Homo sapiens: one gene and its partners. The protein of the gene in region 4 interacts with the protein of the main gene of each other region in a pairwise test. Each region holds a gene or a part of one and is shown on either strand. Other genes may lie near its edges.

Region 1 (8,131 bases), on a different chromosome or scaffold from region 4:
AAAACAAGTTCCCACATCATCTTACTTCACCTAGCCCATCTCAGCACACAACACACTCTTGAATATTAAAACATCTAGCAAATGCTACATCTCTGGATAAAATGCATTACCCAAATTTCTAACAGGGCAGGGAAATGGAATGGAACTTCCAATGTCAAATTTTAGTATGCCCCCACTAAAAAAATCTATGAGCTCTGAATTTTGTTAATAAAGACAATTAAAACCCATTTATGCCTGAGGTTGCAATTTTTTTAATTTTTGCATGTGTGAAAAATCAGACCTTGGCGATGAGGCTTGAGCAGTAGGATATAAATAACTCCCACATGCTTAGCGTTCCAATAATGGAACACTAGGCATAAATAGGCTAAGTTGATATCCTTAGAAAAGTTTAATCATAAAACTAAAACTATTTCTCTGGGCCAGGCATGGTGGTTCATGCTTGTAATCCCAGCACTTTGGGAGGCCAAGGCAGGAGGACCACTTGAGCCCAGGAGTTTGAGACCAGCCTGGGAAACATAATGGGAGCCTGTCTCTACAAAAAAATTTTTAAATAGCCAGGCGTGATAGCAAGCACCTGCAGTCCCAGCAACTCAGGAAACTGAGACAGGAGAACCACTTGAACCCAGGAGGTCAAGGCTGCATGATGGCACCAGTGCACTCGAGCCTGGGTGACAGAGCATGGCTCTGTCTCTAAAAAAACAATAAAATAAAAATTATTCTGGCTGATTAAATATTACTAAATTTTTTTAACATTCCACTAAATCAATGATAAATTTAAACCTGTTACATACACTACAGGTAAATTTTCTCATTTTAACTCATGAAATGATTGACATTTAACAATATTTATATCATAACCACCCACAGTGGCTAAAAGTTCACTACCTATATAACAATCCAATTAGAGGTTAAGAACAAAGTTTCTGGACCCGGACTGTCTAGGTTCAAATCACACTCTGCCATTAAACAACTGTGAAACCTTAGGCAAGTTATAATCTCTCTGGACTCAGTTTCATCTCTAAAATGGAAGTAACAGTACTTATCTTACATGTTGTTTGGAGGATTCAATGACTTAATATATATGAAATGGTTTGAACAACACTTGGCATATAATAAGCACTATACAAGTGTTAGATGCTGCATTATTTGGTTCAAAATTTTTAACAAAGACAAGCTAACACCACCTCATGCTTTAAAAAGAATGCTCATTCAAGAGACTGTTTATTGAAGATATTATTTATAATCAAAAACTTTCTACTTTTACAAAAACTAGAATTGCATTAAAATATACAACGCACAATCTCACATACCTGTTTGGAATACAAGTTCTTTCCCTCCTACACCTGCTGCCTCTAGGTTAATGAATGCACGAATCAAGCTAGCCCAGGGGTGCTGAGTAATGAAACCATGACTGGCCTTAAAGAGAAGGAAAGAAAACAAATATTTGTTAAACAATCTTAAATTATCAGTCTTGATTTTGCTTAAACACAGAGAGACTACTTTGATGAGGTAAGGAATATGAAAACAAAATAATCGCTCTTCAAAGGCAGTATCCAAAGACATCTTCTGCTTCTTTTCCTATGCATAATGGCCATGCACATCAGGTTCGGAAAGTCACCTATCACAGAAGGCAGCCTGGTGACCATCAGCGGTGCCAAACAACATCCCTGGTAAGTACAAGGCTGTGCAAAAGAAAAGGCAAAGAGGGCCAGGCACGGTGGCTCACACCTGTAATCCCAAAACTTTGGGAGGCCATGGTGGGAAGATCACCCGAGCTCAGGAGTTCGAGACCAGCCTGGGCAACATAGCGAGACTCCCTCTTTTTTTGTTTGCTCATTTTTGAAACAGAGCCTGTGGCCCAGGCTGGAGTGCAATGGCTCGATCTCGGATCACCGCAATCTCCACGTTCCAGGTTCAAACGATTCTCCTGCCTCAACCTCCCGAATAGCTGGGATTACAGGCACCCACCACCACGCCTGGCTAATTTTTGTAATTTTAGTAGAGACGGGGTTTCACCATGTTGGCCAGGCTGGTCTCAAACTCCTGACCTCGTGATCTGCCTGCCTCGGCCTCCCAAAGTGCTGGGATTATAGGCATGAGCCAGCGTGCCTGGCCCCCTTCTCTTTTTAAAAAGAAAGAAAAAAAAGAGAACAGGAGAAGAGACGATCCATATGGCTGGGCATTTATTTGTGCCTGTCTCAAAACATCTCTGAAACTTCAATGTCAAAGAAAACCTGAGGAGAGTAATTATGCCAGCGAGAGCCCTTCTCTCAATCAAATCCTGCCACAATAATCTGCTAAGTGGAGTTTTCCAAATATTAAACATCTCTACATAAGTGGTTGTGAATTTGTTAAAGTACTGCTCATAAAGTATTTTTCTGCATATTATTTTATACTACCCACAGGAGTCATAAAAAATGCATTTACTATTTAGTAAATAATATTTAGCTATTATTATTAATCTCATCCTTATTCAAGCCTGATATTTAAAACAGTAAAATCTCACTTGCAAGACATTTTCCTCAGCACCATTAAAGAGAAATATGACAGCATGATGCAAGGCTTCTGAAGATGTTGACAAGACGCGAAGGACTTCCAGCATCACTGAGCAGCTAACTGCATCATCACTGGCACCTTCAAATCAGAAAAACAAATTTGCTGCTCAGATTTTAAAATGTTTACAATATGACCCATTAGGACTAGGAATGGAGCTTTCTCCTCAGAGAAGCATCACAATAGCTGCATGACCAGAAGCATAGCTCTGTCATCATCAGGTGACAATCACACCCACCAGCAGTAAGTTCCATGAAGGGATCTTTGTCTGGTTTGCTCACTGACTTACTCTCAATGCCTACTACCATGCCTGACCCACCAGAGTCACTCAATTAGTGTCTGCTAAATGAAGTAACCTGAGGGGACCTAAAGTCATACTGGAAACTGGTATTCTCAGCAAACCAAGGCAATCTGTTCTATTCTTTACCCGTATTCCACATCCTCTGTAATAGTCTCACTTCTGGTGCTCACAGCTTCCTGCATCATCTCCCACTGCACCCACTCCTTTCTTGCTTGTTTTCCTGCCAAAATCATAAAAGCTGCACAGAGAGGTCACTTTGGATGGTGTAACATTCCTTTAAGGCTTCTCCAAGGGGATTATGTGATGGAAAACTAAAAAGAAGATACCTAATCTAGTAAGTCACAGGAAAGGAGACTAATGACCTAAGTAGTATCCTAGGTCCCAGAACACACACTCAGTTGAATCTCTGAACCTCTTCTTGATTCAGAAATTTTGTATGTTAATTAAAAGTAACTATAAAGATGACTTAACTGTCTTGCTTTTTTAAAGCATTGTAAGAGACAATTAAAGGAATTGATTGGATATTTGATGATACCAAGGAATTACTGTTAGGTTTTTTTAGGTGAGGCAATTGGTGGTATCAAAAAGGGCCCTTATCTGCCAGCAACACAGAGTGAAATACTTTTAGAGAGGAACTGATATAGCTAAGATCTGCTTCAAAATAATCAAGAAGTTGGGAGGGTAGTGGTAGGAAAGAAACAAGATCAGACTGCTGAAGCTGGGAGATAAGTACACTGGGGTTCATTAAACAATTCTGCTTTTGAATATATTTGAAACTTTCCATATCAGAAAACTTAAAGAGTAATCAAAGTAAATAAGCACTAACGTAACTCAGGCAGTAACATTTCTGGGTTTACACATTTGAAGCAGGGTGCCAAAGAGTTTGGCGTGGATTTGAGAGCAAGAAAGATTTGGAAGTAAATTTGAGCTCTGTCACTTTACTCCACTATTTCCTGGTTGAAAGAGCAAGCTAATGATACCTACCTCACAGGTTTAAGAGTCACACAAGATAATGCCCAGTGCCTAGCACCTGGTAGGTATTCAATGTTCATTTTTCCCTCTCTTTGCAAATCTGAGGAAGGCTCTGTAGCTAGCTAAAATTAAAATGCTTGTTTGGGCTCTGTTAAATTCCAGACCCCATTCCTACTTAAGAAGAAATTACCTATTAACCATACTTGTCTTGGTGGTGATTACTGGTTTGTATTTCAATCGAAGTGAAACAAAGTAATAATCATTTAATTACTATCAAATAGAAAATGCTGCTATTAGCAAAATGTGTCACCTTCCAAAAACCTAATGAAATAAACTCTCTTTTTAATTTGACACTGTGAGTTACTTTAAAATAGAGAGCAAACAATAAAATGTTTCTTTATTCAAAAAGAGAGAAAGGGAAATTGAAAGGTATCTATACAGGGTTGATTAAAAAGTTAAACTGTCCATTCAGCTTCCCTTATTTTAATGGTTCTGGTGCGTTAAAAGAGAACTACAGAAGAGTCAAATATCTTTAAGAAAGGGAAGGAAAGTTAAGAGGACAGTATCTATAAGGGCTAGGTGGTTAGCTGACATCCCTTTCCATTTAGAATTAACCTTGAAATTGAAGCCACCCCCAAAATAACTCAATGCCTCTTCTACCAACGACCTGGAACCACACAGCAAACTCAAGAAGATAATTAAGGCTTTTCTGTGGATAACATTACTCCTAATTGGTATCAATTCCTGAGTCCTAGATACACAGATGAGAACTTAAAAAGAAAAAAAGAAAAAAGAAGTGCTTCAATTAGGCCATCCACTAAAAGGATTTAGGTGATAGTCTATTTCAGGGGTGTCCAATCTTTTGGCTTCCATGGGCCACATTAAGAGAAGAACTGTCTTGGGCCACATATAAAAGACACTAACACTAACAATCACTGATGAGCTAAAAAATAAAATAAAAATTGAAAAAAAAATCTCACGTTTTGAGAAAGTTTATGAATTTGTATTGGGCCACATTCAAAGCTACCCAGGACTGCAGGTTGGACAAGCTTAATCTATTTGATGAATGTGTGAAACACTATTTTTAACAATTTATTATTGACAGAAATTGCCTTGAGATTGTTGCTAAGGGTATTCCTATAAAATTTTAGTTAAAAGTAGGTTCTAGGGCCAGGCGCAGTGGCTCACACCTGTAATCCCAGCACTTTGGGAGGCCAAGGCAGGCAGATCACGAGGTCAGGAGATTGAGACCATCCTGGCTAACACAGTGAAACCCCATCTCTACTAACAAAAAAATAGCGAGGCTGAGGCAGGAGAATGGCATGAACCCGGGAGGCGGAGGTTGCAGTGAGCAGAGATAGCGCCACTGCAGTCTGGCGTGGGCGAGAGCGAGACTCCGTCTCAAAAAAAAAAAAAATTCGCAAGGCATGGTGGTGGGCGCCTATAGTCCCAGCTACTCGGGAGGCTGAGGCAAGAGAATGGCGTGAACCCGGGAGGCAGAGCTTGCAGTGAGCCGAGATCGCGCCACTGCACTCTAGCCTGGGCGACAGAGTGAGACTCCGCCTCATAAATAAATGAATAAGTGAATGAATGAATGAATGTACGTTCTAGGCCAGGCACAGTGGTTCCCACCTGTAATCCCAGCACTTTGGGAGGATGAGGTAGAATAATCACTTAAGGAGTTCAAGACCAGCCTGGGCAACAAAGTGAGAACCTGTCTCTATTATTTAAAACATAATAATAAAAAGTGGGTTCTAATGGCTCACAAAAATGCTGGCCTTTAATTATTAGACTCCACATATACAATCTGTAACATTTGGCACTATGTTTGTAAAGAGTAACTGAATATGCACTCCAAAATATGTCACTTTGACATACGGATTATTTTGAGCTGAAGGCAACTGAGAAGCAGGTACTATACAAAAAAGCTCTCTGCCCTCCCCTTGTTTGCCTAAAAGCAGGGTATACATTTACCAAGGTGTCCCCACTTCCCCTTTCCACCAGGAAGTACAAAGGTTGATCAAGAAAGACAACTTTAAACTTTTGGTGGCCTGGCAACAGCACAAAAGGAATCTATATAACACTTTACTAACTAACCTTTCTCTACCATTTATTTGCCTTCCTTCAATTTGCCACCCCTCGAGACTCAAGGTCCTTTTCCTTTGTCACTTCTCTAAAAATGTATTGTTTGGTTGAAGATGCTACATAAGCCAGATTTCTAAGCCACCTCTTTGAGATGTACTCATTTTCCTTGAGTATCTCCCATGTACATGAAGTGCATGTGTTAATAAACTTCTATTTGGTTTTTCTCTTTTTAACCTGTCTTTTGTTACAGGGGTCCACTCAGCTAAGAACTATGAAGGGTAGAGGGGAAACTTTTTTCTTTTGTCCCTACATTTGCTGCTAATTCTTGTATATACAGCCTTCTTATATAATGTTCTTAAGCAACCATGGTGTTTATTTGCCGCTTCCCAGAATTTAAGCATCATAATAGTGGGCAAAGAGTGACATTTATTACTGCTTTGAAATGGACATAAAAAAACCACTGGTGGCCGGGCACAGTGGCTCACACCTATAATCTCAGAAATTTGGGAGACTGAGGTAGGCGGATCACTTGAGGTCAGGAGTTCAAGACCAGCCTGGCCAACATGGTGAAACCCTGTCGCTGCCAAAAATACAAAAAAAATCAGCCGAGTGTGGTGGCACAGTAGGAGAATCGCTTAAACCCGGGAGGCAGAGGATGCAGTGAGCCAAGATTGTGCCACTGCATGCCAGCCTGGTGACAGAGTGAGACTTGGCCCCCCAGCCAAAAAAAAAAAAAAAAAAACACTAAACCACTGGTTACCCCAGCAGCACACGAAGGTACTTCTGGCTTATTTAACAAACGTGTGTATACTGATTTTTGAAAATGCAAGTTACATTCTAAACGCAATTGTCAAGCTTTCTAAATGAAGATATTCTAATATGAATCATTTTATCAAGCAAATAAATTTTACTTACATTTTGTATAACTCTAGACGTTCAAATTTGGCCTGCTATAAGTTCGAGTAATCCAGAAGTGTTAATATTACATAAGAGTTAATAAAAACTTTTAAAAATCACTTTCCATGCCAGGTACTATTTTAGCGTTTTACTTATTTTTAATCCTCCAAGCAACACTATTAGGAAAGTACTATTATTTTCTCCATTACACAGATGAGAAACTAAGAAGTTAAGCAATTTGCAAAAGGGAGTATTAATTACACCCTAATATTCTTTTTCCTTTCAAATGTAGCTGAAAGAACTGACTGGCCAGGAAATCCAGCATCTTATCCTAGTTTTGTCTCTGATCAGCGATGACCAGCTAGCTAAATGTACTCCTGTATCAAATGAGGGGTTCAGCCAGATGCCATCTCAGGTCTTGTCTACCACTAAAATGCTATGCCATTGTAAATGCTATTTTCCATCCCTATTTACAATCCCTTTAACCACTGAATACAATTTTCTGAAAAATAAATATTTTAATAAATGGAAGTTCAATTTAGGGGATTCCCATTCATTTGACAAATATATACTGCATCAGGCACTGTCCTAAATGCAAGTATTCTATTTTGCCAAATGATTTTCAGAGAAAGATTTACACATTAATTAGGTACTTTAACAGTATGGCACCCTCAGTGGAGCAAAATTCTCACTTTATAGGTCAACAGAATCTGCTAGAAGAGATATCCGCCAACCCGCAGCCCAGGACAGCTTTGAATGCAGCCCAATACAAATTTGTAAACTTTCTTAAAACATGAGTTTTTTTTTTTAAGCTCATCAGCCATCATTAGTGTATATTATGTGTGGCCCATGACAATTCTTCTTCTTCCAATGTGGCCCAGGGCAGCCAAAAGATTGGACACCCCTGCTCTAAAACCATGCAGTAACCCTTGAAGGCAGGGACTGTCCTTATGTGGTATCCCCAAAGCCTAGTATAACACCCAGCTGAGTAAAACACTTTCTAAGTGTCAGAACCTAACTCCAGGACACTAGGACACACACACTGTCTGGTAACATTGAGAAAGCTGCTTCAGTCTACCAGAAACATTCCAAGTCTTATCACTGGGCTGCTGGCATTAACACCAAAAAATAATATTAATAAAGCACTTAAGAGAAGACAGAATGGTTAGATCCTAAACTAAATGATACTATCCTAATTATCCTGCTTTCCATCACAAAGAAAAAAGGTTTGCCCAAGAAAATGGTCCCCACAATTGCCCAAGTAGCTTGGGGTTATGTTAATAAACTTTCTGGGCTGTGACAAGTTCCAAATGACTAAAAAAC
Region 2 (8,628 bases), on a different chromosome or scaffold from region 4:
CGTGTGTCTGACACCCCATTGCCAAGGTACAGCATCATGCACATAACAATCAATTAGCAAGGTCTGATGATGCCAAAAGCTATCACCTTTAATTCACAACAAATGTTTATAGAGTAGTTTCAATCTCCATGCAAAACATGCATAGACAGGTTATAAAGCTCTGTGTTAAGTTCAACAAAAGAGTATTCCAAGCACCAGAGAGGGAAGCAGTAATTATCAACAGAGGAAGGATGAAGCCATGTTTTAAGTCTGCAGGCCTTATCTCAGTGTCTTCCCGGGGCCTGAGTTCACTGGCCAATATGGTGGGCAAAGTGCCAGCTCCATTTCAATTACTTCATTCTCCCTTTATTGCTGTTCTTTTTTTTGGTTTGTTTTTGGCTGAGTGCATACTACTAACTACACAAAATTAAATGCTGCATGACATGATCCCTCCCACTGTACCAACTCCATGTATTAATCTATGTACCTCTCCCCTCTTCTCAAAAGCCCTTCTTCTGGTTTTATCTAAATGTATACCTAATCTAATAGGTCTTCCCTGGTCCTGTTAGCTTCATCCCACATGTCTGTCCTCCCCTGGAACTCCTGAAAACACTTCAGAAAACATGGGAGTCTGCTTGACAGCTCCTCACCCAAGTGCCTGCCAACCTTCACCAGCCTGGAGCTCATAGCTCAACACCTGGCTGGGTGCTGAATTACACACAGCTGAATGACTTACCTGCTAACAGATACCTTCTAGTGCCCAACTGCATAGTAAACTGCCACAGGGCAGGGAGAGGGCAGGGCAAGAACAAGGTCTCAAAATCCTTTCCCATCTCCCTCAGCACACAACAGTGCTATGCACACAGCATGAGCTCAAACTCTTGCTAGTTAAAACCACTCCCAATACCCCAAAAATACCTCTCAGACAGCCCACCAATTTAGACGTATCTAAGGCATTACAGGTACAGGTGCCTTAGGAGTCCCTCTAGTACATGTGCTAGAGGTGGAGATTGGTCACAGAGGGTGACTAACTCCTTCCTCCTGCCTTTCTGTCCCAACCAGGTACCCAAGACTTGCACCTCCAAGACAGGGATCATGCCTCTTTTACTCCCGGGTCCTTGGAGGTCAGCACCGAGTTCAGCACACAGCCAGTACTGAAGGAGGAATTGACCAAAGGGAGAGATTATCTCCAGGACTCATGCTACTTGGTGGTTTTGCTTTCAGCTGGAAGCCTCAATCCACTGTCAAATGGAAACTTAAAGAACATCCCGATGACTATGCCTGCGCAAAGAGCAGGAAAACTAAAAACTATTTTCCACAATGAATTTGGCAACTTCCTGCCAAGCTGAACAACTTAGTGCTGCAGATTGCAAAATCACACTCATAGTCATTCTTTCCTAATCAACTATTCCCTCAACTTCACAATTCCCATCACCACCAACACCACACTCCACTCACCCAGACATACAACCTCCGCAGCACGTTTGACCAGTACTGCCGTTCATGGCCTATTAAATACTAGGTACTCAAGTGCTGCTTATTTACTCCTTGATCGCACAGCAATCACCCACCCATTTTCTTCCACTCTTCACACCCTCTGTGCACAAGACCTCAGCCGATGCCTTGCTCTCTGGCACCCAGCCCTCCAGGCCCCATCCTCTCACCTTCTTCCCAGACCCTAAATGCCACCATCATTCAACCAGTCTGTCCTCTGCTCAAACAATAACTTCACAGTTCTGAAACCATCAGCCTACACTCTTCTGTTCCAGGCTGACCCAGGCCCATATTCACTCTCAGACTCCAGGAACTCTGACTTATCCTCCTGCCTTGGCTAGGAGAGTCACTGTGTCTCTCTTTCCAGGAACATATAACATTCTCTGCCATCTCAAAACCTTAACAAAGGTCTTACTCCTTCTTGTCCAAATCCCACCCACCCTCTGACAAAAGTTTTCCCAAAGTCCAGCCGCACTGGGTCCTCTCTCTTCCCCTGCCACAGAACTGTATTTAACCCTCCTGCGCTACCTTCCTGTTGGTTCATAAACACTCTCTCCTGTGTGGAGAGTCAGAACAGCTGATGAGGAAGGTAAGGCACGTAGCCACGTGATCCTGCCCAAACCACCAGACTTTCCAATCTCACACAACTGTTATGAAGCTCAAATGATAATTTACAGGAAGGGGACTTGTTCATCTCACATTTGTAAGACCGTCCAAGTTGAGGATCCCTCTAATGCCTGCCAAGTGCAGATATTTCCTATCATTCACAACCCTAGAGAGCTAAGATCTCAGCAAATACCAATTATATGTAAGACACTGAAAGAACACACTTCTCATGGAGCACCGGTCTTCACATCCTCCATGTAGCCACTCAGGAACTTCTCTGGTGTAAAATTTTAGGCGGCTGGACAAATATGTAGGAGACAGGGGTGAAAAACGGGGACACAGCTATTCTTGGCAAATCTGGTGGCAAGGTGCCAGTTCTAAGGGTGGAACATAAACTATAAGCCACAGTCCGATCAGAGGGGCATGAGGAACAAAAGAACTGAGGAGTAGGGATGCGAGCAGAGTAGACCAGGGTACCAATGAAACACCTGGGCAAAGAACGCTTTGGACCATAAAACTGGGGCCACTGCCCTTCCTGACGCTCACGACCATCACAGCTGGGCGTACCCAGACTCGGGCCTGTGAGCCGTAAAATCGCAGCTCACCGGGCCAGACCGGGGCGGCCACTCCCCTCCGTCCTGGGCGAGGCTTACCAATCGAGATCTCCTGCGCGAAGGCCAGCGAGATGAGCAGCAGGGGCAGCCCCACCGCAATGCACGTGACCATCTTGTCCACAGCCAGCTCCAGTCGCAGCCCCTTGAACTTGGGCTCCGTGGGCTCCTTCAGCAAGAAATCCGAGAACACGTACTCCGTGGCCAGTTGAGCGATGGCCATGGCTGCGGCGCGCCAGGCTCGACCAGGAGGTCCGGGTACAGCCGGCGTCGGGAAAGCTGCGCGGCGCCTTCACCCAGTCACCGGCCGGGCGCGCGGCTTTCGCTTTCCCTTTGCCTGCTCCCGCATCCCGCCTGCCTTTGTGTCTCGGTGCCTCAGGCTCCCAGCGACTCCGCTGGGCTCTCGCGCTCGCTGCCTCCGCCGCCGGCGGGGCGGGGCGGGGCGGGAACCCGAGAGCTCCGCTTCCTGCGGTTCCACCCCGCACGCCCGTGCAAGTCCCCGGGCCGCGCGCGGCACTCGGATTCGCGCCTCTCCCGCGCACCCCCAGGCGCGGGAACCACGCGCGGAACAAAGCGCTTCCCTCTGGCCCTGCCCCTCCGCGCCGCCCTGGCTGCCGAAGCGGCCGCCGGGATAGCCCTGCGCTCACAGCCAGCTGCGCCGCGCTCTTCCGGAACCATGCGGGGAAACCAAGTACCCAGGGGCGTGGAGCTTCCGGAAGACGCGGTGACGCGGGGCGGGGTGGGCGCGGCTGCATTCCGCGCCCCTCGGGCCACTCTCTGACAAAGGGATTTTCCCACTGAGCGGCACCTTTGGAAATTCTCCCGTCCCTCCCTGCCGGATTCTCCTCACGTCCTGGCACCCGGGAGTTTTAAAATCATTTCTGCAAGCGACTCTTTCTGTGGATGGGATGGCCCCCTTTACGCCCCACCCCCAACATTTCCAACACGGTGAAATCGGGTTAGAAGGAGCTGCAAAAGCTTCAAAGAACAGTCAGTGCCATAAAAGGCCAATCGAGCGGTGTAGACCGACGGTGCCTTGCAGAGGGAGCGCTGGACCCTTCCAGGAGCTCCGCGTGAGAGGGTGGCGCGGAAACGGTAGTGAGTGTGGAGTTTCGAGGCCTGAGTAGCGCTGCTGGTCCCGTTTCTCTTTCCTCTGCCATCCCAATCAGAGCCTTGTTCCGGGAGCCAGCAGAGAGAGGGGGGCCTGCAGGTAGGTGGGTGTTGGGGCTGCAGAGAGCTGCTTCTGAACAGCTCATAGGAAGTGGATGATGGAAAGACAGGAGGAAATACTCTGACCAGTGTCCACGGAAATTAAGGCTGTTGAAGTAGAAATAATTTGATTTATTGGAAGCTAAATGTGAGGATCCACCCAAGAAGACTTACCAGCAAAGTTGGGCATGTTTCAAAATTTGTTACACGTTGGAAGGGTTTTAGAAGAAAGTTTAGGAAAAGGGAGGAGGACCCCTTATATCAGAGGTGGGATTTTTTTCATCGGAGGGTATGGTACACAGGTTACAGTCACTGGCTGCAGATGACAACATACAGGCTAAAATGTTTTGTGCACAAGAAAATCAAAGTTTATATGATTCAGAAACAAGTCAGTGTTCTTTTCAATGTCAGTATTTTACATACTAATCAGTACATCAGCAGTTTGAGGAACTGACAAAAGGATTTGAAGGACTCACAGTAAGATTTTTTACTCAGGGACAGGATCTAAGCCATGAATCATAAGACCTTTCTTAGATGGCTTAGTTTGGAAGCCCTGTCAAATGTGACATGTAGGTTATCACCAGTAACATTTGAAGCAGGCAGGACCTGCAAACATGAGGGCTCCTTGGGGCAGGGCTTGGCTCCCTTCTCTGTGGGTCCACAGATACAAGCCTCAACTCCCACATGTACCTCTCCACCCCAGCCTGGCCGCTAAACACACATCCAAGAGCGTATACAGCTCTCTCCGCGTAGATGGCTCATAGGGCTTCAAACTCATAACGGCCAGGACTTCAGTCTTCATCTTCCCCTTAAACCTGAACTCCATCTTCCCCATCTTACTAAATGTACCACCAGCCACCTGTGCACCCAAGTCGGAATCCTGGAGCACCATCTTCAACACTCCATTTCTCACAGCTGCCATAACCAATTTTCAAATTCTCTTGCTTCTCTCTCCTAAATATAGCAAATCTGACACCCCTCCACCTGCACTGCCAATACCCAATTCAACTCACCATCCTGTCTCCTAACCACATATAGGAAATATGTGAGACAGGGTCCCCCTCCATTCTCCTCTACAGCTGCCAGGATGAGCTTTTCAAAACTCCAGTCGGATCATCTTTTCTACTTAAAGTGTACATTGTTTTTAGCATAAAATACAAATTTCTTAGCATGGCCTCTGCCTACCTCACCACCAGCTTCACTGCTTTCCTTTCAGTTCTTCAAGTTAGCTAAGCCCTTGGCCTCCTCCAGGCCTTCCCACCCAAAACACTCCCCACAGTGGCCTCTTTGCCTGGCCCACCTTTATTCACCCTTCTGGCCTCAGCTTGATGTCACTTCCCTGGGAAAGCCTTCCCTAAGTAGACAGACTAGATTAGGTCCCTTTGTGAAATTCTCCCATAATACTAGCCACACTAGTTACTAGCTATTAGTCTTGGGGAGTTCTTTGACTCTCCTGTGTCTCAGTTTTCTCATCTGTAAAAAGGTTGTACCTCTTAGGACTGTGATAAGGACCAAATGAGTTAACACGTGGGTAGTGCCCAGTGCCTGGCACCTTGTGAATCTAGGTACATTTCATCTGTCATTGTTCTCTATTTTTCCTTCTTAAAAATAGTCACCATTGCAACTCAACAAATATTTATTCATTTATTTAGTGTTTGCCACCACTTTATGTGATCGGCTTCTTGAGGGTAGGCCCATGCCCATGTGTACCACTTTTATCCTCAACACTTAGCACAAATGCCTCACACAGAGTTGATGTTTTAATTCATATTATTAAATAAATGTCTGAAGGAATCTGAACACTTTTTAAAACTGGCCCAGTTCACACTCATTTATCCATACATTCCAGGCATATATTAGAGGCTGGTGATGGGCCAGTTCTGGGCTCAGTGGATGGGGAAGCAGAAATGAAGTGAATGGATTCCATTTCCTCAAAGACCTTATGGCTTAGCAAGAGAAATAAGGCATGCACACAATTAACTATAATGCAAGGTAGAAAGAGTGATTATTGTGAAAAGTGGGGTATACCAAGGGAGGTGCAGAGAATAAGTAGGGCCTGGGAGAATGTGTCAGTTGGGACATTCAGAGCTGGGACAGGGGCTTTCTGGGAGTCAGGAAATCATGGGTGCCATTTCCCTTCTTTCCTTGCCAAAAGCTAATCATCCGATAGGCTCAAATGGCCCCTTTTTAGGCTCAAATGCCCCCTTTTTAGGAAGCCTTCCAGGATCCTCCAGTTGTAATGAATCCTTCCCTCCCTTGTTACTCTCTCCTCTGGCCTAGAAGTTAGTTCATTTTGCCTCCTGTGATGGGATGATGGATTGTGTATCTCTTTTTTCATTACATAGCAAGTTCCTCTGAGGATCTGGAGTGAATCTCAGCAGTTGCATAAATTGCCCTCAGTTTTGGCAATTTTTTACATTCCATATGATGTTATCCTACTTTTAATGAATTTAAAATAGAAGCCAGATGGAGAACTTGTTGGAAAATAGTGTGTCCGGAATTGATTCCTTCTGGTGGGTTCTTGGTCTCACTGACTTCAAGAATGAAGCCACGGGCCCTCGTGTTGAGTGTTACTGTTCTTAAAGGTAGTGTGGACCCAAAGAGTGAGCAGCAGCAAGATTTATTGTGAAGAACAAAAGAACAAAGCTTCCACAGCATGGAAGGGAAGCTGAGCAGCTTGCCGCTCTGGTGGCCAGCTTGTATTCACTTATTTGGCCCCGCCCACATCTTGCTGATTGGTCCATTTTACAGAGCGCTGATTGGTCCATTTCACAGAGTGATAATTGGTGCATTTACAAAACTTTAGCTACACACAGAGCACCGATTGGTGCATTTTTACAGAGTGCTGATTGGTGCATTTACAAACCTTTAGGTAGACACAGAGCGCTGGTTGCTGTGTTTTTACAGAGTACTGATTGGTGCGTTTACAAACCTTTAGCTAGACACAGAGCACTGATTGGTGTGTTTACAATCCTCTAGCTAGACAGAAAATTTCTCCAAGTCCCCATCTGACCCAGAAGCCCAGCTGGCTTCACCTCTCAATCCCCCCTCTAAACAGGACACCCCAACTGCTGTTGGGAATTGGGTGATGACTGCTCTAGCTACTTCCTGCTGGATAGGAGCAAAGAAGGGGCCCTGCAGTTGTAGTATCCTCCAGAGGGGAACTCTTTAGGCCAGTGAAAGGACCAGCGGGTCGGTCCAGGGGTCCTCGGTAGAAGTTGTTAGTTGAGCTCATTTGGGGTTCCATTGGTAAGACCATCTGTAGCTTGATGGCCTCGATCCTAGAGGAAACAAATTTAACAAGGAGTTTAAAAATACAGGGCCCGAAGGCAAGTAATAGTAAGATGGCTGCCATGGGACCTAGAAAGGGGAGAAGCCATGTTGCCCAACTCCAGAGGTTGGTATAAGAGTTTGAAAGGCATTGTCTGATTTTGGAAGCCTTTTCCTGTAAACGCCAGGTGGCATATCATACTATCCCTGAATGGTTAGTGTGAAAACAACACTCTTCCCCTAAGAAGGTGCACAGTCCTCCTTTCTCAGCAGTGAGGAGGTCTAGGCCTCGGCCGTTTTGGAGAGTCGCTGCTGCCAAAGAGTCTATTTGGGATTGTAGAATAAGGATAGATTTCGTTATCTCTTGCAAACTGTCTGAGAAATCCTTTGAGAGTGTGTGGTAGTAGGATAATGAAGTAGATAAACTGACTATTCCGGTTCCTGTAGCAGTAGCCATTCCTAACCCCATAAGTAGGGGTATTAGTTGTATGGCTCTGCACTAACAGACTTGAGCTTTGAGGGGTACTGATAGGGTCTGATTTCCTGGGGAAATGTTAATGTCGGGACTTAGAAATACTAAGGTGCAGGTGCCTTCCAGTTAGTGGGGTGGCAGATATAGTTCAACATTCCACATAAGAAGAATATACCTTGGCTGGGTAGACAGAACTGGTTGTGTATGTTATAAAGGTGTGTGAGTTTATTGTTTTCATTTTCCTATACTCCTAGAATACTTGCCAAGATAGCTGCTATGAGTGGCTGGAAAGGGGTGTTGGGAGCAAACTGAGTGGCTCCCTGTGTTCTATTTTCCCATTGGAGAAAAAACCATTTTGTATCTACTAGGAACCATTCGAGAGAGCGATTGAAAGAGGGGATGAGATGGCATTCACTAGTGGTGGGGATACTGCTGCAGGGGGTCCAGGGGTGAATGGTCATGCAGAGAGTATGTTTGCCATTACAAAACCTGGACTGTTTGTTAAGCAGGGAGGAGGTGATGATTTTGGGGGCCCCTGAGACGTGGACAAGCCGTCTGAATGGAGCTGTTTGAGTGACTTGGAAGTTACTATGATCAGTTGGGGCTTGAAGTTGTATGGTGTAATTACACTGATGTGGTAGTAGGTGCCCCAGGAGCAGACCTGATAACAGGTTGCATTGGATGCATAAAGGGGCTTGGAAAGTTAAGATGGTATTTGTAGTTACAGGGCTGTGTATGGGCTTTTCATTGCTTGTGTAATAGGTGAGGTTGGAAATGTAAGAACGCAAAAGTTGTATCGCATGTCCTGTTAGGGTATTCTTGGTCCTATCAGAGATGGGGAAGTTGGCTAATGATTGCATATTTAGAAGTCGGAAAGGGTCTTTTCCTTCAAAACGAGGGTGGTATGTTAAGTTGGTAAAGACCCAGTTTTTTGCAGGAATGGGAGGTTCTGCCTGGCAGCAATTTTGGCCTTAGCATCTGCCCGAC
Region 3 (8,131 bases), on a different chromosome or scaffold from region 4:
CAAATTAAAGACTTCAAAGTGTACTTTGGTAACCTCGCAAAAGCACTTTCATTTGAGAGCCTGGGGCAGAAGTCAGAGAGAAGTTGGCTGGAAAGGGATGTCAGTGAGACCACCAGGGTGGTCACTGGAAGGTGCAGCTATGATGTTGGGTTGATGAGTGGGTGCCTTTTTCTCCCTCCCACTTCATCCTCAGGGCAACAAGGGAGGGCAGGAAGGGGCTGTGAGGCCTGTTCCTCTGAAAGCAAGAGACTTCTCTGTGTTTCTGTGATTGAAGCCCACTCCTTTTACATTTTCAGTATCCAAATGACCATTGCTGCCTAGAAAGCCACCCATAGCATTGACTCTGATTTGGGCATGGCCAGTGAGACATCCATAATCATCCGTCCCTAACAAAAATTTCTAAATGTGGTATTTGACTTAAGCCACCTTTGAATCACTCTGAACAGGATGGCACTGAACTTTTATTAATCCCCCCCCACCAAATTCTTTTTTTTTTTTTCCTAGAGAGGCAGGGTCTCACTCTGTCACCAGGCTGGAGCAAGTGCAGGGGCCTGATCATAGTTCACTGTAGTCTTGACCTCTCAGCCTCAAGCAATCCTCCTGCCTCAGCCTCCTGAATAGCTGGGACCACAGGCGTGCTCCAAGGCACCCCACTAATTTTTAAATCATTTTTTGTAGAGATGGCATCTCGCTTTGTTGCCCAGGCTGGTCTTGAACTCCTGGCTTTAAGCAATCCTCTCACCTCAGTCTTTCAAAGTGTTGGGATTACAGGCATTCGCCACCACACCTGGCCCAAATCCTTTTATTTTAAATGCTCTATAGCTATATTGATCTTTCTATTAACAAAACAAATGAACAACAATAACAAAAAGAGAGAGAAAGTGAAACTCACTCAGGAGTCCCCTCTATTCTTTCTGTTCTTAATCCCGGTAACCACACATTTGACTTGAGTTTGATTCTGCCGAGGAAACACAATTATCTAATCATCCAACCAATAATAGTTTTATTCAGGCTCCTCTATGTGCCCCACATGGAGCTTGATGCTGGGTGTAAGCAGTAAAATAAATCAAAACGTGCAAATCTTCCTTTTAGGTCTGTGTCTAGATTAATTTCTTGATGTTTTCCAGTCTAGTGCAACCCAACCCAACAGATCTTGTCAAGGAATAGATGGCTATAGGTTCTGAAAATAAGAATGACTCCAAAGTCCAGACGCAGGATCAGGATGTTCCTTCTCTAAGAAGGTGGTTTAGTTATTTCTGGGAAAATATCCTAGAAAACCTTACAGTGGGATTAGGGACAGTTTAATGGCTATGTCAGTGGTTCCCAACCCTAAATGCACATCAGAGTCACCTAGGCAGTGGATCCATCCCACAACTATTAAATGAGAGTCTCCAGGGATGAGACCTGAATACTGTCTTTTTTCTTTTCTTTTTTCTTTTTTTTTGAGACAGTCTTACTCTGTCACCCCCAGGCTGGAGTGCAGTGGCATGATCTTGGCTCACTGCAACCTCCACCTCCTAGGTTCAAGTGATTCTTCTCTGCCTCAGTTTCCCAAGTAGCTGGGACTACAGGCACGCACCACCACGCCTGGCTATTTTTTTATTTTTATTTTTAGTAGAGACAGGGTTTCACCATGTTGGCCGGGCTGGTCTTGAACTCCTGACCTCAAGTGATCTGCCCACCTCAGCCTCCCAAAGTGCTGGGATTACAGGCGTGAGCCACTGCGCCCCGCCCACTGTCTTTTTTTTTTTTTTAAAGGACCTCAGGTGATTCTGATGCACAGCTCAGGTTGAAAGCACTGAACTAAAGGAAGGAGCCTTTTGATATGCATTCAGGAAGCAGCCAACCTAATGCAATCAAGAAGAGATAGTTCCTAACTGTCAGCCTTGTGGCTAAGTGAGGAAGAGATAATTTGGCAAACCATGGAGACCCCACACAACACACAGAGCTGTAATCTAGAGCAAGGAGACAGACAACTCCCAAACCTACAGTCAGCTCCAAGAGCCCTAGCACCTTTCATGTGCTTTTCCTGAAAGCTGATGTGTGCCATCCATAAAGATCACAGCTGGGCCCACCAAGAGGAAGCTGTGCAGAGATAATGCAGCCCTCACAGCCACTTCCGGAGACTACACAGAGATTCTAGTGGTTTCCACTTAAAACGCTCCAGTGCATTGGAGAGGCATTTGCCGGGCATGCACGCTTGTAGATTTCACATCCCATGAGTGTGGAGCTACTTTCTTCTACCTTCTGTTTGTCAGTTTTAGCTTTTCTGACTACTTCCTTGATGTTAAGTTGTCACTTGCCAGGTTTTCCCAAAACGTGGGTTTCTCATCTCCAACAACCCTAATCTACTTAGCTCTCTAATTACTAACTTCTTACTAGTCTGTGAGTCAGAAAACCACATGACAAAATTGACTTAGAACTGTCACACGATAAGGGAACCAGGAACTCTCCAAATAGAGTTCCTAACTCTTTCAGTTCTCAGAATTAGTGGAAAGATCCTGCAGCCATTTCCAGTGCAACATCCTAGAGATCTGAGGTTCCCTGGAGACCAACTCTCAGATGATCTTGACTGGGATTAACAACGGAGGACAGGACACTCTCAGGACTTACAAATTACAACTGCTATTACAGCTCAGCATTTCAAATTCAAGATAATTTCTTATTCAAATGTGGACCAACAGATAACTGAAAATTCAGTTTCATGAGACGTAAGCAGCTAGATGTAAAGGGGATAAAGAGGACAAAGTCATGCGCTTTTACATTCGGAATTCTGCACTTCCAGCACAGTTCTAAACATCTTGTATTGACTTTGGAGGAGAATGAAAATAGTGAAGCAAGAGTGGATTAGTAAATATACTTAAATCGCAATACCTAGGAGAAGAGTGTTTGGCTGAACTGAAATACTTTTAACACACAGTGCAGTTACATGAGTGACTTAAGGGTTCTTATCTCTGGACTTTGAGTTTTGGCCTAAAATGATGTAATGATGTTGCTAAAAAGACATTGTTAAAGAACTTAAAGCCGAAACAGCTCAGCAGGATGAATGAAGATGAAGGTACTGGCTATCCCAAGGAGCCCATTCAACAGCAGCTTACCTCTTCTCAGCTCCATATTTTCAATGTGACTGGGTCTTATAGTACAGGCTTGTATTCATCACAGATGTTTGGAACTTCAGAATAATACATGGTGCAAATTTGCATTTACCTTCCATTGTAAATCAGTTCCAATAAAAGATAATATAAAAGGCAGAGCTTCTGCCTTGGATTTTGTGTTCTTTAAATTTTTTGGTGCATTCTGTCTTTAAAATATAAGAAGTACCTCACTATATTCAGTGTAACACTCAACCGTCCCTGTCATGAGCTGGGTGACCTTGGTCATTCATTTATCCTCTGGTGGGCTCAAATTATTCATCAGTAAAATAACGAGCCTGTACAAATAAAATGTAATTTTTTTCACATCAGATGGGTAACGTGCCAAATCATAACAAGGTTTGAGCGAGGCACATCTCACACATGGGCATGAAAACCCAATCATCGCTTATGAAACTAACATTTCAATAGAAATACATTATGAAAGTTCTGGTTCTAAATCCATATTATCTTGAGGGCATATCCACTGATGCAATGGATATGATCATTATTTGATTTGATATCAAACTAAAACGAGTGAGAAAAAAAAAAAGAAACCCCAGAATATGTTACAGTTGTTTTTATTCCAACTGAAAATTGAGTAAGGGTAACTCTTCACTTTAACGTACCTAGAAATGATATCTCCTTGCATAATTAGTCATTTAACAGAGCCAGCAACCATCCAGGAGCTTGGCTTGGTGTCATAAGACATGTGTAAGTAGCAAAGCACTGTCTGGTTTTGAAATCTCAAAACCATGAGTATTGAAATGTTGTATTTGAGTGTTTAATGAGAAGTGGTTAATCATTTACTTCCTTTTTTCAGGAAAGGGGAACTCTCTGTCTTCTAGACAAGGTCACCAACATCTAACCTTGGGCTGTGTCTTCCCATACAACCCTATTTACGTCAACCTTCCAATGACTGCTCCTGGGGACAGAGTGGTGAAATGGTACCATGGGCATTCTGACAACCAACTCAGAGAAGAGATGCTACATCCTTTGCCCTCTCAGAGGGTCAGAATTGAGAACATCTCCCAGTACCTAGACATACTCTGGTACATATGAAGTTTGTGATCTATGAATTTGGACCACAGAATCCACCACTACATCTAGCTCTTACTTCTCTCCAATGCCCTGCTGGTTCAGTCAACAGTAAGTCAACAGACAGACATGTAAGAGCTAATGTAAGATGCTAGGCAGAATGCAAGATGTAAGATGTAAGATGTAAGATGTAAGCATGTAAGATGCTAGGCAGAATCCAGAGACAAAGTTGGAAGATGTCACCCTGTGTAACAGAAGTTTCTAGGACTCTGCACACTATGCATATTAATAACGTATTTAAAGAGGGAACTTGAAGACAGTTTAGGCAGGAGATTAAGGAGACCTCTCATGTGTTTTCATGTGTTGTCATAGCCCCATGTTTGGAAATGACAATATGTGACACAAGAGTGTCAAAATGAAGACACCAGAGGATGACAACAGTCAATCAAAGCCCAGTAGAATCTAGGAACTGGAAGCAAGGAAGGTGAGAATTTGTCAGTGTGGCTTCATCACTACCTATTGGTGGAAGACACATACCTGATAACTACTTTGCTAGTTCTTAGCACATCAGGGCCATTTTCTGGAGGCATAATGTAATCTACAGAAACAGCTCTCAAGCCTGACCTTTGCTCTACAGATAGCCTCAGTATTCACCTCTGATTATGTGTCCAGATTGCAGTTTCATTCCTGTTGATACGCCTGGCTTGGGTGGGGACCTTCCTTCCAGATCCTCTAAGTTCTCTTTCATATGCATCTCATTCCAGGGAGAAGGGGAGAGTTCTAAGTCCCAAGTTCTAAGACACATACAGGTACACACCCACACATACAAGCACCCACCCTCACTTTATGGAAAGCATCCAGTGGGGAGACTCATGAACATCAGTCATTCTGAGGCCACATCCTTCTACTAAACTAATCATTCCGCAGACTTGGATGCACCCCGCTTCCACATGGACTTTACCATCCACAACTTACCAGCAAGAATTTGGAAGATTCCAGTGATGTAAAACCTGCCCCCCTTGGTGAGGGTGAAGAGTTGGCAGAAGAACAGGAACAGAGACAGAATGCTGAAGATGATCGACAGGATCATGGTGGCCTGGACAGACTGCAGCCATTCTGGGGGAAAGAGACACTTGGTTAGGAGAGCTGGCCATGGCCGGGGGAGGGCTCTGCCTCGAGGTGCAGGGCCTGAAGGGCCATGACTGCTGACAGCACAGTCCTCACAGGCAGCAGAAGCAGAAGTCCTTTTTCCTTAGCAGAACTCAGACAATTCACTTTTGCAATCTAAGAAGACATTCTTTATTGTTTATTTTGGAGGAAAAAATATATACATATATACATACATCTATATGTACTGATATATACATATACAAACACACACATGTGCCAATATGTACACATTACATACATATATACCTATATGTACAAATATGCATACAAATATGTACGTGTTTCTATATATATGTGTATATACACATATACAAATACGTGACACACACATATATATAAAAAACACATGTGAACATTCAGGGAAGGGCTGTAAAAAAATATCTATAGTTCCATCACTAGGAGTTAAAGTCATTTTAAAATATATTGAATTTCCTTCCAGTGTTGGTGCAAATGTGTTACTTATGTACATGTGTCTGTGTTAAAGAGGGCCTGAGCCCTGCCTACTACCTTCCCTCTTCTTGCCCTCAGGGGTCTTTGAAGGGCTTATCAGAACTTCTGTATTCCAAGAAAAATAGCTTAAAACCACTATTCAAATTATCTGCATTCCCCAAGGAGAGGTAAAGATCACGGGAATGGCTGTTAGAGCCCAAAGTAATTTTTTGGAAGAATGGAAGAAAATACTGATGAAGAAAGGTATGCTCTCTATAGGTATGGAAATCAATTTGCTTGGACAACCCGTATTTTTTTTTTTTTTTTTTTTTGGTCAACTCTGATCATGGCCATTAGCCTCAGCACAGAGCGGTGTGTGATCGCCAACCACCAGACGGGATGAAGGCTTACACTTCCTTATCTCTGTTGAACCCCAAATCTCCAAGCTTCCAACTGAAATTCAGGCAAGAAGACAGAGCCTCCTATGGTTTCTTCAGTTCACCATCCGCTGCAAACTCATGTCATTTCAGGGAGGAAAGAAGAAACAACCTGAGTTCCACACTGTAGAGGGAAGCCCAGGGTAAAAATCTGCATTTGGCCTCTGTCTTGTCTTCCAAGTGCCACAGAATGCTGGGGGCAGGCACTGCTCTCATGGAGGAAGGGCAACTGGGGAAGCTGCAGCATTTAATCCTTTCAGCTCAGTAACTGCCATATGTAATGGCTTCAAAAGCATACCTTCAATGCTTCACCCAGTACTCACAGCTCTGAAATCTGGATGGTTTATAATTAGTAACTGAGTAAGATAAACTTGTTTTGAGTTGTAAGCAGCTCATGGCAGAATTTTAAGGGTGCAAATTAGGTTAACTGTTCCTAGATTTTCACCTAAGATGTTTCCAAGGCACAGACTGGAGATATTTTAGAGTTGGAAGAAACCTGAGAGATCAACTAGTCCAGCTCCTTTGCACTGAAAGAGATTTCCAGAGGTGTTTTCATGAGCCCAAATGACACAGCCAAATCTAAGAGGCCTTTGATTCTAGTCTAGCACTCTTCACATTCAAGCACAACATATGCTTCTTTCATTTTTTCAATTTCTTTGTCAATTAAAGTAAGAAAATGACGGCTAATGGGTTGTGAGCCATCCTGATTTCACTCTTACATAACCTTAATCAAATGTTTGTCTTTATCCAGCATAGAGGTTCTTCTGGAGGAGCACTTTGCAATAAAGATAATGTTCTCATAATATTGTTTGCTTAAAATAAAAAAATTATCTAGCACTTTGGTAGATGCAGCTGGAATTACAAAGAAATCTGAGACTCAAATCTGAAACTAAAACAAATAAAGGGATTCACTTTGGCTGGGAAATGTCCTTCCATGTGCATGTTCATGAGGAGTATGGCTGGTGGAGACAATATCTTAGATTTCCTTCTCCAATCCTGAGATACTGTCTTCACCCTTAACCCCGCGCCCCTGTCATTTTCAGCAGAAACTACTACGAGACCTCACATACACAGAAAACTTAAAATCTTTATATGTTAAATCTATATAAACAGAAAGTGTCTAATATTTAATAATATAACCTAAATACTTCTTGAAACATCTTTCAACATTAACTTGAATTTTAGTCCCAACCCCATTACAATTGAGCTCTTTGCCATAAGTTATTTCTCGAATCAAATCAGAATTAGAGGATCAAGGACATTTTTATTCAATGAGCATTTGTTGAATACCTACTGCTTTGAGCCAAGCCCTCTGGTTGACTCTGATGATCCAGAGATGAAGAAGATGGTTTTCAACCATAAGCACAATAAATAAAACACATGCATTAAGATAGTAAGTCTATCATCAACCACATTATATGTGAATGGGTTCAAGGCACTCATAAGATATGGAATTTTATCTTTGATTAAGACATTTTGGGAGGCTGAGGCAGGTAGATCACTTGAGGCCAGGAGTTCAAGACCAGCCTGGCCAACATGCCAAAACCCCATCTCTACGAAAAATACAAAAAAATTGGCCAGGTGTGCTGGTGGACACCTATAGTCCCAGCTACTTGGGAGGTTGAGGCAGAGAATCGCTTGAACTCAGGAGGTGGAGGTTGTAGTGAGCCAAGATCACACCACTGCACTCCAGCCTGGGCACAGAGAGAGACTCTGTCTCAAAAAAAAAAAAAAAAAAAAAAAAGAGAGACATTGTAGCTATATTCTAATATAATAGATACACCTAAAACAAGCAACAGTCAAAAACAAAAAAGATTCTGAAAAGAAGCTTCAGGCAAATGTTAACAAAAAAGAAAGAAGATAAATTAATAATAAAAAATAGAACTTATGTTGAAAGGATAAAAGTGGCCAGAGAGTTGTTTGGTT
Region 4 (6,773 bases):
CCTCTCTCCCCAGGCACTGTCTTCATAGTCCACAGGTCTCAAACTCCAGCATCTCAGAATGAAAGGATTCACAAGTGCTCACAAGAGGCTTGGCTGCCAGGGGAAGCTCCGACCTGAAGATTTGAACTAATGAGGGACTATAAAGGCCAAGACCTTGTTCTTGCCATTTTAGAGATTCAGAATATAATCTACAAAGTTAGAGATTATAATTGGCCTCCACTGTGTGATTTGATTCCAAGCTACCCATGAAGAAACCCAGACTCAGAGGTCACTTGCCTAGGGTCACACAGTGACCTGAGATGGGAACCACAGGTCGCCACATAGACTTGGTCATCAGGAGTGGGCCTGGTGAGGCCAAAGAAGGAGATTTCATCTGTCAAGGTTACTCACACAGGGCAGCTGATTCTGTTTCCTAGGGCCTGTGTCTTAGGCTCTTCCATCTCTCTAACCACTAGAGTCCCTCTGTCCTCAAGTCATCACAGTAAACTCCCATTATGTCTCGGAATTCTCTTTGCCCAAGCACTCAGGCCCTGCCCTGGCAGCTCCAGAGGAATGCCCGGGACCTTTGTGAGCTGAGTGATGGGTCTCCCCATTTGTGGCAGGGGGAATTTGAATGTCTTAGGGAGAGCCCTTCCCCTCCTCTCCTGATATGGGGACTTCTGAGTTCCCTGGGAGAAGTTGAGGGCTGGGGTAGAAGTGGTAGGGAGCTCCGCCTGTCTTCTGGTACCTTGGGCTGTATTTCTATTACCACTGCCAAGTTGTGGAAGAAACAGTACTTATTGGCAAATGAGCATTTATTGAGTGCTTATTATATGCAGAGCAGTTGAAGGAAGGTAGATAGGAGAACGCCATCCAAGAACTGGAAGCAGCCCTTGTCCCCAAAGGGCTTACAGTCTAGCTGGGAGGCATTGTATATATACAACATCACAGCTTAAAGATACAAAACGACATTGAAGCACCATTTGCAGGTGCAAAGTCATTTGGCACAAAGTGGGAGTATGGGACAGCTCAGAACCTTCTCTGTCCCCAGCTTAGGGACCTGGAGGTCTGTCTACCTGTCTCCATGCTGCCCTGCCTCTGTCTGGTTTGGTGTGTGTGATCTCTGTTCTCTGACTGACCGGGTGCTCTTAAAGGGCAGAAACCAGCCCCACATTCTTTGTCCTCTCTACCCTGCTGCCCTCGCCAAGGCTCTCCGTCCACTGCAAGACAGTGGGTTGGGCTGGAAAGGCCCAGCCATGTGTTCTGGCTTCTGCCAGGGCCTCCCAGGAGCCTAGGATTTGTCTCAGTGGAAAAATCATGGGATTTTGTGTAAAAAGGTCTGAGTTCAAGTGTTGGCTCCACCATATACTACCTGTGAGACTTTAGACCAGTCCCTTAGCCTTGGTTTCTGAATCTGTAAAATGGGAAGAACAATATTTGCTCTACCTTTGTCACGGGGTTGGGAGATAATCACAGGGGACGATAAGGGGAAGCTTTGGAAATAGCAAAACCCTTCATGGCTGGGGGCCTTTGTCCTTCCCTAACCTATCTGAAGTTTGAGGAAGATCAGATAAGTCCGTGCATGCAAGGCACCCAGCACAGCAGCTGGTACACAAGAGATGCCAGGAACTGCCAATTTCCCTCCACCCCTGGAGTTCCATCACTTGGAATCCTTTTTTGACCTCTGACTCCAATCTGGGCAATAGAGGCTAGAAATGGTAGGGATTTCACATTTAGTTTTTGGGGAGATGCAATCCAAAAAGTGAAACAGACATAGAGAGAAATTCTTGGCTTCTTCTAGAGGAGTTTGTTGGGGTGAGGTGGGGTGGGGATGAGGTGCCTGAGACACATCCATGCTGGGCTCATAGCTCACTGCCTTGCTGCCTTTGAACCTCTAGAGCAAGGACACTCAGGTGCCAGGAGGACAGCTCTGGAGGTCACTTTGGTTTCTGACTCCACCCTTCTTCTGGTAGTGAGGCCAAGTGGCTGTCACTAGCTATTGGGGGTTTGGGAGAGTCCTCTCCATAGCACATATGGCCCAGGGCAGCCTTTTTTGGACCTCAAAGAGAGCTTTGGTCAAGGAAGACAGGAAAGAGCATAGATGAGAGGGGACACAATTACAGAGATGTTCCTTATACACTGTCTTTCTTGGATGGGAGCAGAAGGGAGAAAGAGGCTAGAGACTTAGTGCCTGGTGCACAGTGGGTGCTTGGTGCAGTGTGAGATAGATACAGACAGAAGTCTTGAAGGCATGGAGGCCACAGAGAGCATGGGGGCGGAGGGGGGTTCAAGGTATGACCCACATGTTACTTATACAGCAGGCTGGAGAGGGAAGGAGAGAATGGATAGGGCTGGGTGGTAGGAGGAAGGAGGTGGGAGAAAAGATAGGGCACACATTCAGGGTAAGAAGAGGTTAAGAGGCTGGGCCAGGATGGGGCCAGCCCCAAACCCATCTCCTTCTGCCTGGATCTTGTGGGCTCCCAGGACTCTCCTTTGCTTTGGCCATCAACGAAAGGAGGTAAGGGATGTTGAGCATCAGACTCCTTCTGCATCCTTCCCCCAGGAAGCAGAAATAATGAAATGATTCTAGTAATGCGTGATAATGGTATTAAGAATTACAGTTTACACAGCATCTTTACATGCGTCATCTCACTTAATCCCAGTTAATCTCTTTTGAGAGCAGTAGTACTGGCCTAGAAATTTAGAAGCCTGGGTTCTAGACTCAGATCTGCCTCTGCCTGGAGAAGTCATTTCCCTTCTCTGGTCCTGAGAGCAGCAGGCTGCTCTATCCACAATGACTGTCCAGTGGTAGGAGCCAGAAGCAGGGGATCACGGGCTGTGGAGAGGCAGACAGAGAAGGAACAGAGATTCCTGGGGTGGAAAAGCTGCTGCCTGAGGACTGGGGAGAGTGAGATGGGTGATGGATGGGTATTGCCTGGTGCCCATGGTTGCATGCCTGAGCGCCTTGCCCAGCCAGCCATAGGTGTGTGCTGGGCAAGAGGGCTCACTTGTGAAACTGAGTGTCTCCTTTCAAGAAGTGTCTAGGTGCAAATCTCCCCTCACCCAAGACAAAGGCCCGGGTCCCACAAAGGGCTTTTGTTTTCTGCGCCGAAGTGGGAGGCTAATCTCTGGGTCTGGGGCACCCCTGGAGACGGGGGTCCCGGGCACACACAGCATACACACACGTGAAGGCGTGCGCACTCATATGCCTGCTTCCTCTTTGGAGAGGTTCTCCCTCACCACAGAAAGGAAATCTTTGGCCACCAAAGATTTCCTTTTTCCAGAGGCCATGTCTAGGGGAGCTGTTCTCTGGTTGACACCTCTCTACCTCCAGCAATGAGTCTTGGCAAGCCTTGGGGCCCAGCGCTGCAGGTGGGGGAAATTTTCCAGGAGGAGCCAGATTGCGGCTGGAAATCAAGGCCCTCCCTTCAGCCCTCTCAAAGTGGCCTCCTTCCCTTCCCCTTCTCCTGAGGAGGACTGGCACCCACACTCATCCACTGCAGGAGAAGCGGATTTATTGCAGGTTGGGGAGGAAGGGGTGCAAGGGGAAGTGAGAAGTCCCCAGCCATGCACACTTGCACCAACGTAGGCAAACCTGTTCACACTCAGGGGCATGCACAACTCTGCATGTGAGGACAAAAGAGAACTTGGGGATGAACACACTTGCACACTAGTAAAACCAGTTGCATCATTCCCGGAACCCCCAAGGCAGGGGTCTGTACACTCCCCACTCAGTACCTGGGTGCAGGCTCTCCAGAGTTTCCCTCTTACCACCCACCTGCCTCCCTCCCCAGCTCAGTCCCCTAAGTTCCCAGTTCCCTGAAAAAGGCTGGAGAAGCCACCACTAGCTGCTCACAGCCTCAGGGCAGGGGACCTGCCAGGCTCAGGGCTCCCTCCGGCAGCCTCCTCCCCGCCTGCTCACAGCACTGGCCTGGGCGCGCACGTCCAGGAAGCAGCTACTCTGCGCTGGGGGGCCAACTTCAGACCTGCGGGAGAGGAGGGACGGGGTGGGCCCTTCTGCCTCGGGCCTCACAAGCGTCCGTCGGGGCCGTAGAGGCCGCTGGCGGCCCTCAGGCCTTGGTACCCCGTGGCAGGCTCTGCGGCGAGTGCAGCTCCACCGACTGCCGCCGTCGCACCTCGCGCTCCTCCCAATCGGTGTCCGGCTCCAGGCCCTTCAGCACTGCCAGGCGCTCCGACAGGCTCTTGGCTGGCGGAAACAGCACGTAGTTGTAGAGGAGGGAGCCCAGGATGGCGCCCACCAGGGGTCCGATCCAGAAGACCTGGGGGCGAGCGGAGAGGGCGGCTTGGCACCCGCGCCGGCACCGGCACGCGGAGCCCGCAGGCCCCGGCGGCACACTCTGCGGCCGCACCTCTCCTCCCCGACATTAATCTAGTAAAATGCTTATTTATGTAATTACAACGACAACGCCAGCTGCTGGGGAAGCCTTGTCAGTGCGGGGTTAAGGGTGCGAATTCTGAAGCCACTGCCTGTGTGTGTCCTGATTCCACCACTTAAGTGCTGTGTGCACTTCAACAAGTTACTTACCCTCTCTGTGCCTTTCACTCTAAGAATGTCTACCTCCTGGGGTGGTTGTGAAAACTGAGTTAATGTTTGCAAAGCACTCAGAACAAGGCTCACCACATACTAAGCACCAGATAAGTGCTAAATACTACCACTTATAGAGTTCTAAGTGCCAGACACTGCATTATCTGGGTTACACCGGTAACCTCACTTACTGTTCCCAAGAAGCCAGTGAGGTAAGCTGTTGTCATCCTCATTCACAGACGTGGAAACTGAGTCTTTGGCATCAGATCTGAGGGGTGGAACCCAAGGCTCCCCAGGACCAGGAGGAGTGTGGAGGGTTTGGGGTACCGCTGCTGAGCCCCCATCCCATGCTATTCCAGCTCTTGTTCTCCCTCTAAAATGGGTTTCTAGAGAAGGGGAGGGCAGGGGGTTTCAGCCATTACCCAGTGGTCATCAAATTTGCCAGTGACGACAGCTGGAGCCAGGGAGCGGGCAGGATTCATAGAGCAGCCGGTGTAATGGATCTGCAGTGGGAGGAGGGCATCAAAGAGAGAAGGGAGGTGAGGACAGGGCAGGAAGTCCTTGTCCCGCACTGCAGTGCTTGACCTCAGCCTAAAGGGAACCCACGTGATGGACAATTAACATCACGTTTTATTTACAGATGGGCTGGAGTGATATCTGTCCCTCTGGGGTATCTAGGAGTCAAACCTCTGGGGTGTCTGTTCCTCTTGAGAGTTCTGTGTATGTGTCCCTCTTGGGGTCTCTGTGTCTGTCTCTGGAGTGGTCTGTGTGTCTGTTCCTCCAGGGAGGCTGGAACCCATGGCCATGACCTACCCCAAGGAGGTGGCCCAGGGCCACAGAGAAGCCTATGGAGAGAGCAGGGGTGCCCGGGTTCTCTCCGCGGCGCTCATCGGTGGAGGCGAAGATGCAGAGCACCAGCTGCAGTGTCAGGAAGAGCTCCACAGTCACCGCCTGGCCAGCCGTCGTGCTGTTGCTGAGCTGGGGACAGAGAAGAGGCGGGTAGGGGAACACTGAGCCCACTTTCCTCTCTGGCTCCATCTTCCTGTCCACCTGCAGTCGAGGCACCAGGGGGCCTCTGGGCTGGGAGCCGGAACACCTGGGCTTGCCAGACGCCTTAGCTGCAACGACTGATCCCTTCTTCCTGGGCCCTGGCCCAAAGGCAGCCCCTGATCCCCCAGGATGCCCATGGTCCCCCCGCCAGAGGTAGCAAAACTGACTCTGTAGCCCATTAGATTGGGGCCTGAGGCTGGGAGCCTGCAGTATGAGAGGAAAAGAATGCTGAGATCCGGAATTTCTGTTTCCCAAAGAACAAGAAGGGAAGAGGTTTCAACTGCCTCAGGAAGCTTTGGGCCGGTTAGCAGGAAGACCTTCCTCTGTCTGTAGACCATCAGACCTTGGTGCAATGAGAGGCCTGTGGTCTTTCTTCCTGAGGTTAAATGGCTCCCAGAGACAGGGTCTAGGGACTTGGGTCTGGGGGACAGTCCTAGTGTGCCCCTTTCCGCTATGAGTCCGGAATCTACCTCTTTCCCTAACCCTTGTCTATTCCCCACTGCCTTTCAGGCCTCAGGTTTGCCCTGTTAGTTTGCTCCCTGCACATCCTATGGAGGTTGGGGTAAGGGCCCTGGAGCTGTGTTGGACAATGCCTCCACACCCATGTAGGCTGCCCATGGTCTCAGCAGACCCTGCCTTGGGTAAGGAGAGAACTCGGGGCTGAGTAAAGAGGTGATTTCATAACTGGGCCGCACCCAGCACTGGATTTCTCCTTGGGTTTTGTCACCCTGTACCCTACACCCTGCCTTCTGGGGCTGGGCACTGCACTGGGTGGAACAGTGACAGCTCTCAGCTCCCACGCTCTTTCTCCAGGCCCTGAACCCCCACCCCTGGGTCCGAGACATCAGGTCAGAACCCTTGGGTCTCTCTAGGGTCTAACCTCAATCCCTCCTATTGTTGTCCAATGCAGAGTCTCTAGAGGACAGTGAAAAGAGCTTTGGAAGCAGACACTTTGGAGGCCTCTGACTTGCCATGGGACTACTTAATTTGGCCTCAGTTTCTCCTTCTGTGAAATGGGATAAGAAAATGGATTCTGGAGGACTGTGGGAGGACTAGAAATGACATATTGGTTCTGTGACTTTGATCAATTGCTGTTGAGCCTCAATTTGCCACTCACCATAGGGGGAACCACAGAATTTCCCTTATAGCGTTGTACCAATGATGAGATGATAGCTGGCCTGGCACAGGGCAGGTGCAT

The links.
Region 1: the proteins of AQP2 (region 4) and ERMP1 interact in binary tests that used the Homo sapiens proteins (3 or more experiments, as listed by UniProt).
Region 2: the proteins of AQP2 (region 4) and PANX1 interact in binary tests that used the Homo sapiens proteins (3 or more experiments, as listed by UniProt).
Region 3: the proteins of AQP2 (region 4) and PMP22 interact in binary tests that used the Homo sapiens proteins (3 or more experiments, as listed by UniProt).

What each region holds. Positions count from the first base shown.
Region 1 is NC_000009.12:5,822,586-5,830,716, forward strand, and holds part of ERMP1 (endoplasmic reticulum metallopeptidase 1), read right to left. Parts: intron 2,635-8,131; coding exon 2,507-2,634; intron 1,417-2,506; coding exon 1,311-1,416; intron 1-1,310. UniProt on the Homo sapiens protein: Within the ovary, required for the organization of somatic cells and oocytes into discrete follicular structures.
Region 2 is NC_000011.10:94,123,598-94,132,225, reverse strand, and holds the start of PANX1 (pannexin-1), read right to left. Parts: upstream 3,386-8,628; 5' UTR 2,914-3,385; coding exon 2,733-2,913; intron 1-2,732. UniProt on the Homo sapiens protein: Ion channel involved in a variety of physiological functions such as blood pressure regulation, apoptotic cell clearance and oogenesis.
Region 3 is NC_000017.11:15,234,327-15,242,457, forward strand, and holds part of PMP22 (peripheral myelin protein 22), read right to left. Parts: intron 5,286-8,131; coding exon 5,145-5,285; intron 3,556-5,144; exon of another isoform or gene 3,459-3,555; intron 959-3,458; coding exon of another isoform or gene 921-958; exon of another isoform or gene 893-920; intron 1-892. UniProt on the Homo sapiens protein: Might be involved in growth regulation, and in myelinization in the peripheral nervous system.
Region 4 is NC_000012.12:49,952,885-49,959,657, reverse strand, and holds the end of AQP2 (aquaporin-2), read right to left. Parts: intron 5,525-6,773; exon of another isoform or gene 5,504-5,524; coding exon 5,339-5,503; exon of another isoform or gene 5,310-5,338; intron 5,029-5,309; coding exon 4,948-5,028; intron 4,260-4,947; coding exon 4,050-4,259; 3' UTR 780-4,049; downstream 1-779. UniProt on the Homo sapiens protein: Forms a water-specific channel that provides the plasma membranes of renal collecting duct with high permeability to water, thereby permitting water to move in the direction of an osmotic gradient. Plays an essential role in renal water homeostasis.